Linked DNA regions of Homo sapiens. The protein of the gene in region 1 purifies or fractionates together with the protein of each later gene. This does not show direct contact. Each region holds a gene or a part of one and is shown in the gene's direction. Other genes may lie near its edges.

Region 1 (4,336 bases):
ATGGTAAAGAAATACATGTTCTTTCCAGAGCTCTGGCCTTTTGCCTAAAATAAAATTTAAAAAAAGGAAATAAGATGCATTGATTCTCCCACTTTGTTGGCTTGATACAGACAAAACACATTGAAACAATTTAAACCTGAGATGGTTTGAATGCATGGGGAAATTGAAGTCACTTTAAAGAGATATGGTTTCAGATTAACTGAGCCTCTCACCTCCATTCCCAGAGGACAGTAAATGAAGAGAGGCTGGCAAACTACCAAGCCTGCTGAATGATTTTCCTTGGTTCTCCACAACTGAGTCATTGAGAAAGGCAGGTTTTGCTGCCCAGGGTGGTATTCTCCTGTCCATCCATTTACTTCTCCTTAATCATTAGCTTTTGATGGTTGCTAACCATGATAATAATAGCTAACATTTATCAGTCACTATGAATCAACCACTATACTCAAAATGTCACATATATTACCTCGTGACGATCTCTTGATACCATTTTATACAGAAGGTGTCTCAAATTCACACAGCTAGAAAGTGACAGAGCTTGGATTCAAATCCATATCTACCTGACCCCAGACTCTATGCTTGAAGACGCTGTCCTCTGATTATAAGCACAAATGTAAACTAGCATTTCATTGCTAACATTTTATGTCTTCCCTCCTATAGATGCTTATAGTAACAACAGTTCTTCTGGTACTGGAGAATAATAACAACTATAAATGTTGCCAGAGTGAAAACTGCAGCAAAAAATATGTGGTAAGAGCAACAGTTTTTTTGAGGATGGTTGAGTGGGCTCCAGCTTTCTTTCCTCTCACTCAGAAACACAAAAATATTGACAGTATTATACCCTCACTACTGTTGAGTACAGTACAGAGATCAAGAGTTTACTGCCAAGATCATCTTCCATTTTGCTTAGTCTTTCCTCCACTTTTGTTCTACTGATGCACTTTCAGAAAATCAGCATTTAAAGATACCTAAAATTAGGAAATAATACTTTTTTTTCCTAACTAAGTTTCCATTAGTCTATTTTTTCTTTACAAACTTTATTGAGGGCTAAATTACATATAATAAGTGGCATCCATTAAAATTATGCAATATCATGAGTTTTAACAGTTGACTACACTCATGAAACCACCATTGCAGTCAAGATAACAGAATATTTCTGCCAACCCCCAAAGATTAACCTTTGATTTACTTTTTGTCATTATAGATTAGTTTGTATTTTATATATGTGGAATCATACAATATTTGTCTTTTTTATCTGGGTTTTTTCATCCAGGATAATAATTTTTAGATTCATCCATATTGTTGGGTGTATGTGATGTGCATTTTCTAAGTTGGCACTTGAAAAATAATTAAAATAGTATCAGGGTGAATAATACAACCGCATTTTCTAAGCCAGTGCTCCTGCATTTCTACCATTCTCCTTCTCATCCTCTTCCTCCTCTTCATCGTTTATTCACACTTGCATAGCACTTTATAGTTCTTTCACATTTACTCAGTGAATTAAGTCATTATTGCTCCTATTTTATAGATGAAGCACTTGTGGCTCAAAGAGAACAAGTGATTATTAGCTAGGAGGAGTTTTATGATGATATCTGGTAGGCATTTTTTGCAGCAGTGCTTCTACCTGTTAGCTTCATATTGCAATCACCTGGGAGCTTGGAACAACACTAATGCCTAAATCCCATCCCCAGAGTCCCTGATTTAGTTAGTCTGAGGTACAACCTGGGCATGGATATGTTTTAAATCTCCCCAGGATATTTCAATGCGTAGTCAAGATTGTATGGCAAATTTTCTTTGACCAATGTCTTTTAAAAATTAAATTCGTTGCTTTATTTAGTACTGTGTCCCTTATGGAGAAGAATTGAAAATTTAAAATACACTCGTGTGTGTGTGTGTGTGTGTGTGTGTGTGTGTGTGTGTGTGACCAGTTGACTCAGTCATCCTCCAGTAGCTACTTGTAATATACTTATGGAAGAGATTTCAAAATTGCCTAGGGGAAATAATAAATTCAGGTATAGATTCAAGTTATGATACTCAGAGAATTTCTAGAAAACAAATATATGTGATATTAAGTGTAAAATAAAAATTCACATGTTCAATTTGCCTTAACTCACTATTAGCACTTCTAGCACAAATAGATGCTAGAAATAGTCTGAAAAGGGTCTTATAATCAGCATTAAATTAGATGACTAACATCTCATTGGGAACAGCAGGAGAAAGAAAGAGAGGATTCTCCGGGTTCCCTTTTTGGCCTTTTCAAGGTAAGTTCTAGAAGAGAAGTCCCAATTCAAATGCCCCCAGAAGCCACGTGTGTGACATAAATGAATTAAATGAGCCTGGTAGGCATCAGAGCACAATTTCCATCTAAGGAGGAGAAGGAGCTGCTACTGAAGTCCAGCCAGTTGTTGCCATGATCAAGTAGGGCAATAATTCTCAGTTTTCAGTAGAAAGTAAAAATATGGATTTTTATGTAAAACTTTTCAATTGTAAAATATTGGCAATTAATCTTCATTTAAACCAAACAAAGTACATATTGTGGGAAAAACTGAATCTGCATCAGTTTGTAACTTCCAAAATGTAATAAAAATTGATTCATTTCTTGGTTGTTATCTGCTATGGCCTGAATGTGTTCCTCCAAAATTCACATGGAAACCTAATTCTCACTGTGGCGATATTAAGAGGTGGGATGTTTTTGGAAGTGACTAAGTTATGATGGCTCTTCCCTCATGAATGAGAGTGGTGCCCTTATAAAAGGGGTTGAGGGGAGTACTCTTACCTCCCTTGCACCATGCGAGGACACATAGAAGGTGCCATTTATGAGGAATGAGCCCTCACCAGACACTGAATCTGCCAGTGATCTTGGACTTTCCAGCCTCCAGAAGTGTGAATAATAAAATTCTGTTATTAATTACTCAGTCTAAGGTATTTTTATTATAGCAGCAGGAACTAAGGCACTCTCCATTCCTGCATGGAGTCTGGTTTTCTGCCAAAATTCTTGGACAATTATTCCTGGAAAGCAAATATTGGCCAAATAAGGGCACTTGAAATAATAGCTAATATTTTATTATATTTTATTTTTGAAATTGCCCTGTCACATAGGTACCATTCCTGTCTACATCATCTACAGTTTACAGAAAAGAAAACTATGATTCAAATTCTTATTCCCACTTTATTTTGAGGCTTACCTTGATAGTGCAATGGTATCCACTCATTAGATTGTAGTGTGTGCGTGTGCATGTGTGTGTATGCTATGGCTGCCAGTTTCCCCCAATGAAGAAATTCTTCACTGATCTTCCCAGTGAATATTTTTTCCAGTTTTCCATAAAGAGGATATATTAATGTCATACTCAGTGAAATAATTTTAAACAAAGAAATGTTATTGAGATGATTTTTATTCCTAAAATCACAGGTTTGTTGGTCTTACTTTTTCTGGTCTCAGCTTTTGAATTTATTATCAATTGGTTACTGCATGTTACTATTCTGCTGCCTACTCTCACCCTGCAATCAACATTTCTAAAGCTAATTTTTCCCCCAAACCAAATAACCTTTCTTGGTATCCTTATTTCTGTCTCCTTTTTATCCAAGCCCCAGCTCTGGATTTTTTTTTTTTTTTCATCTCCAGCTACTCATTTCCTCCTTAATGTGTTTTCCTCCAATGTGTGTCTTTGTCACCTCAACTTGCATCTGTCTCCAAGCTGGATCCTTATCTTTGAGGTCTCTTACTTCCAGCTTGTGTGACCACTGCCAGAGCAATCTTCCAAAAGCACATTTTGGGCATATCACTTCCTGCTCAAAAACCAATTACAAGACTTGTTTAAAAAATAGTTTCTGGCCGGACACAGCGGCTCATGCCTGTAATCCCAGCACTTTGGGAGGCCAAGGCAGGTGGATCCCCTGAGGTCAGGAGTTTGAGAGCAGCCTGGCCAACATGGTGAAACCCCATATCTACTAAAAATACAAAAATGAGCTAGGCGTGGCGGCACGTGCCTGTAGTCCCAGCTACTCAGGAGGCTGAGGCAGGAGAATCGTTTGAACCCAGGAGGTGGAGGTTGCAGTGAGCCATGATCAGGCCCTGCACTCCCGCCTGGGTGACAGAGTGAGACTACAACTCAAAAACAACAACAAAACAACAACAACAACAAAACCCCAGCTTCTTCCAGGTCTATGGCAGGGTAAGCTCAAAATGAACCTGGAACATCTTGTGCCAGAAAGCAAGAAAATGTTCAAAGAATGACATGAGTATGTCAAAGGGCATAGGAGTTGACCTACAGGGATGTTCACATTGGCCGAATTTGGACCATCTGTGCATCTAAAAGAATAATCGCATTTATGGATTATA
Region 2 (3,500 bases), on another chromosome or scaffold:
ATGAAGAACAACTGTAAAGATTCCTTGAAGGCTAAGATCTACCCAAAACTGAGGTCCACCAAAGGAAGAATTCAGGAATGGACAAGGTATTTTTTCCATAATAGGATGAATAAATGTGATAAACTTACCAAGATAAGCCTACCAAGCACAGGCCTCCTAGATATTAGGCTTATCTGTACAGGGCTTTATACATGCAGATAAGTACTATATTTTCTTAAATTGATTTCTAAGAGTTATGATTAATAAAAGCCTCTTACAGCTATATACTAAAACGTGGTCCAAGTTAGGAAGATAGTTAAGCTCCTGGACCTGGTGTGTTTTACCTTTTGTTTTTTAGTCTCAGCTTTTCCTTACCAGCTCATTACTCATCATGTTTTTTCCATCTAAAGAAAGCCCACCTTTAACCTGCAGAAAACACTGGTAATGCCTTTGGGGAAAATAACAGAGGCATCTCCCATCCCCAGAGTAGTGAAAGACAGTGTGTATTCTCAGAATGTGCCCCCTCCACCCTCCTGTTACCCATGCTGGCTCTTTTTCTGTGCAGTGTGGCTTCCTGTTGTGGTGCATGGCCCCGAGCCCTTCTAATGGGGCTGAACTGCTCTACAAGCGCATCATCCGTCCTTTCTTCCTGAAGCACGAGTCCCAGATGGACAGTGTGGTCAAGGACCTTAAAGACAAGGCCAAAGAGACTGCAGATGCCATCACTAAAGAAGGTAAGACTCAGGAACAAGATGGCCCCACATGTGAGAGGAGATGTGACACACTGGGCTCAAATAACAGGCTTCCTGGCCTTCTTGTCTTATCACCACCCCTCAGCCAAATGCCAACATTACTCTGGGATTTCTTTACAAAGTCTTTGCCTATTGAGAACACTTACAGTTCTCGACTTTTCCCAAGACTCTTCCTCCATGCCACATTTAATGTAGCCTTCAGTCAGAACATTAGGAAAAATGACTTTCCTTGGTAGGCAGCGATTTTAGAGAATCATCTATATTGATATGCAAGTCCATCTCTTCTAATTGTTTATTTAATTTTTTTGTATTATACTTAATTACATAGGTAGTTTTAAATAAATGGAGAAAGCACCTTTCAAAAGCTATACTAGCAGGAAAAATTCCATCAAGCATTTACGTAGTAAATTTCTATAATTTTACAAAAAATTCTTGATCTTTACTTGAACTGTACATGAGGGGAAAAGAGCCCCCTCAGGTATGTGTTCTCTCCACTTGCAGAAGAAAACTAAAGGACCTAAAACTAGAGACAAGCCTGGGATGCCAAAAAGCGGGAGGAGAAATGATAAAGAGCCATTCATGAATTCCATGTCTACTCTAAGACACTTGTCTAATCACCCTCACATAATAAATATTTAGGGCAAACTACCACTCTTTAGAAAAAGTACAACCTCAAAACCTATAGTTCTGAATTGTAACATATCGAATACCTTGGACTGCTGGATGCCAAAAGACAATACTTGGGGTTATCTATGACGTTTAAACAGGTAAATAGGGGAATTCTCTAGGACTGTACACTCTGTGACGTTTTGAATGAAGCGCAGGCAGGCTTCTCTGCTATCCTCCAGGCAGTGTAATAGTCAAGGAAAAGAGCAACAGTATTGGATCACTCCTTAGACACTAACCAGCTGGTGAAAGAGTTCATTGGCCAGTCTCCTCCTTAGAATGGTTTGCACCAAGTGGAGAGGCCATGTCGCTGAAGGGGAAAGGGGAGCCCTCATACCCACAGTCACTGTAAACATCCAGTAGACAGGAAGATGGCTTCGGGCAGTGGCTGGATGGAAGTAGATTGGAGATACCCAGGTCTGGAATGAAGTCATCTTCCACAAAGTCTTCCTTCACTGAGACCACGAATTCTGGGTGATCATTCTCTAAAAGGCTGAGAGGTGCTTCCTTGATTTTCACTACCGCATTAGCTTGGCTCTCTGTCTCAGACTACGGGCTTGGCATATATGTAGTCAAAATTAATTAGTTCATTAATAGCTTCAAGCTTGGCTGATAATGTCCCCACTGACAGAGAAAGGGAGGCTGGTTAGGAATTGGGTCCTTCTGAGTAGACCTCTGGGAGCTGCTCCAGGCTGGCAGACCCTGGGGAAGGACATTTGAAGAACACTAGTGGGTCTAAGTTGTCCAGAATGCCCAACAGGATATCATACTGGGAAGGTAGTTGATGTTTACTTCCAACCCCACCACAACTAACTTCTACCCTCATCTGCCTAGTTAGGGATGTCAAGCATCAAATAGATGGAATTATCTTGGCTTTCGCCTCCTCTTCAGTAACCAGAGCATCCATCCCCAAGTGCTGTCTTCACTCATGGTTCTCAACTACGAGTCCATGCATTTTCTCTTGTAAAAACTGATTTTCTAGCAAAAGTTTTTGGTTCTGTTCTAAATCTACCACTTGCTGTTTCAGGTCACTCATTTGAGCTTGCTTTCTGTCTCTGGCAGTTTGAGCTGCTAATCCTGTTTTTCCTCCTCAGTGCCTTCTCCTTGGGGCTCCCCACCCCCACAGCACTCACCATCTCCTGGCTGGCTCCTCTCTGGGCTGGCACCATGAGCAGCAGGGCCTAGCTGGCCAAGGCTGTAGCAGCAGGCTGACCAGACAGAAGCAGTACTTTGGAGGCCCTGACGGCCAGCCTGATTCAGTTCAGATTGATCGGTTCAGTATGCTGTTCAGTTTTTGTTATGGGTACAAAAGAATGTCCACTCTCAGCTCTGATTAATTCACTCAATAAATATTTATTTATTGAGGTGTTTAATATGTGCCAAGCATGTTCATAACACTGGCAGTGAACCAGCATACCGAAGAGACCATACTCCTTGAATTCATGAAGCTTACAGTCTAGTTGAGAGATAGGCAGTAAAATTGAAAATTAGATAGTATATTTACCATATAATATAGGGAAAAAATAAAGCAAGTAGAAAGATGGGGGGGGGCCAAGGACTGGAGGGATGGTTATGATTTTAAATAGAGACGTTTAGGAAATCTATACCAGAAGGCTCTACTGAATCAGACTCAATAGTAGTAAAGGAATCAGGAACAGTGACTCAGCCTGTAATCCCAACATTTTGGGAGGCTAAGGCAGGAGATCACTTGAGGCCAGAAGTTTGAGACCAGCTTGTTTGTGACAGGGTCTCCTATGGAGACCCGCTCTCTACAAAAATTTAAAAATTAGCCGGACGTTGTGATGCAAGCCTGTGGTGCCAGCTACTCAGGAGGCTGAGGCAGGAGGATCACTTGGGCCCAGGTAATCAAGGCTGCAAGTGAGCTGTGCCACTCTAGCCTGGGTTACAAAGCAAAACCCTATCCCCCTAAAAAAAAAAAAAAATAGAAAATGGTAAAAGAAGGAACCATGGGGAATCATACTTTAGAATGAGCTGCATATACAGAAGTCCGGAGGTGGGAGCAACAAAAGAAGTGATCTAGAGGGGTGCAGGAGGAGATGAGGTGGAAGAAGTTGCGAATGGAGGCTGGAAGACGTATCACAT

Evidence for each region. Proteins that work in one complex are often made in the same cells at the same time.
Region 2: the proteins of TM4SF18 (region 1) and REEP5 purify together in Homo sapiens (affinity purification with mass spectrometry; 2 studies listed by BioGRID and IntAct, with this or other methods). This does not show direct contact.

Annotation. Positions count from the first base shown.
Region 1 is NC_000003.12:149,326,741-149,331,076, reverse strand, and holds part of TM4SF18 (transmembrane 4 L6 family member 18), read left to right. Parts: intron 1-657; coding exon 658-747; intron 748-4,336.
Region 2 is NC_000005.10:112,884,228-112,887,727, reverse strand, and holds part of REEP5 (receptor expression-enhancing protein 5), read left to right. Parts: intron 1-544; coding exon 545-713; intron 714-3,500. UniProt on the Homo sapiens protein: Plays an essential role in heart function and development by regulating the organization and function of the sarcoplasmic reticulum in cardiomyocytes.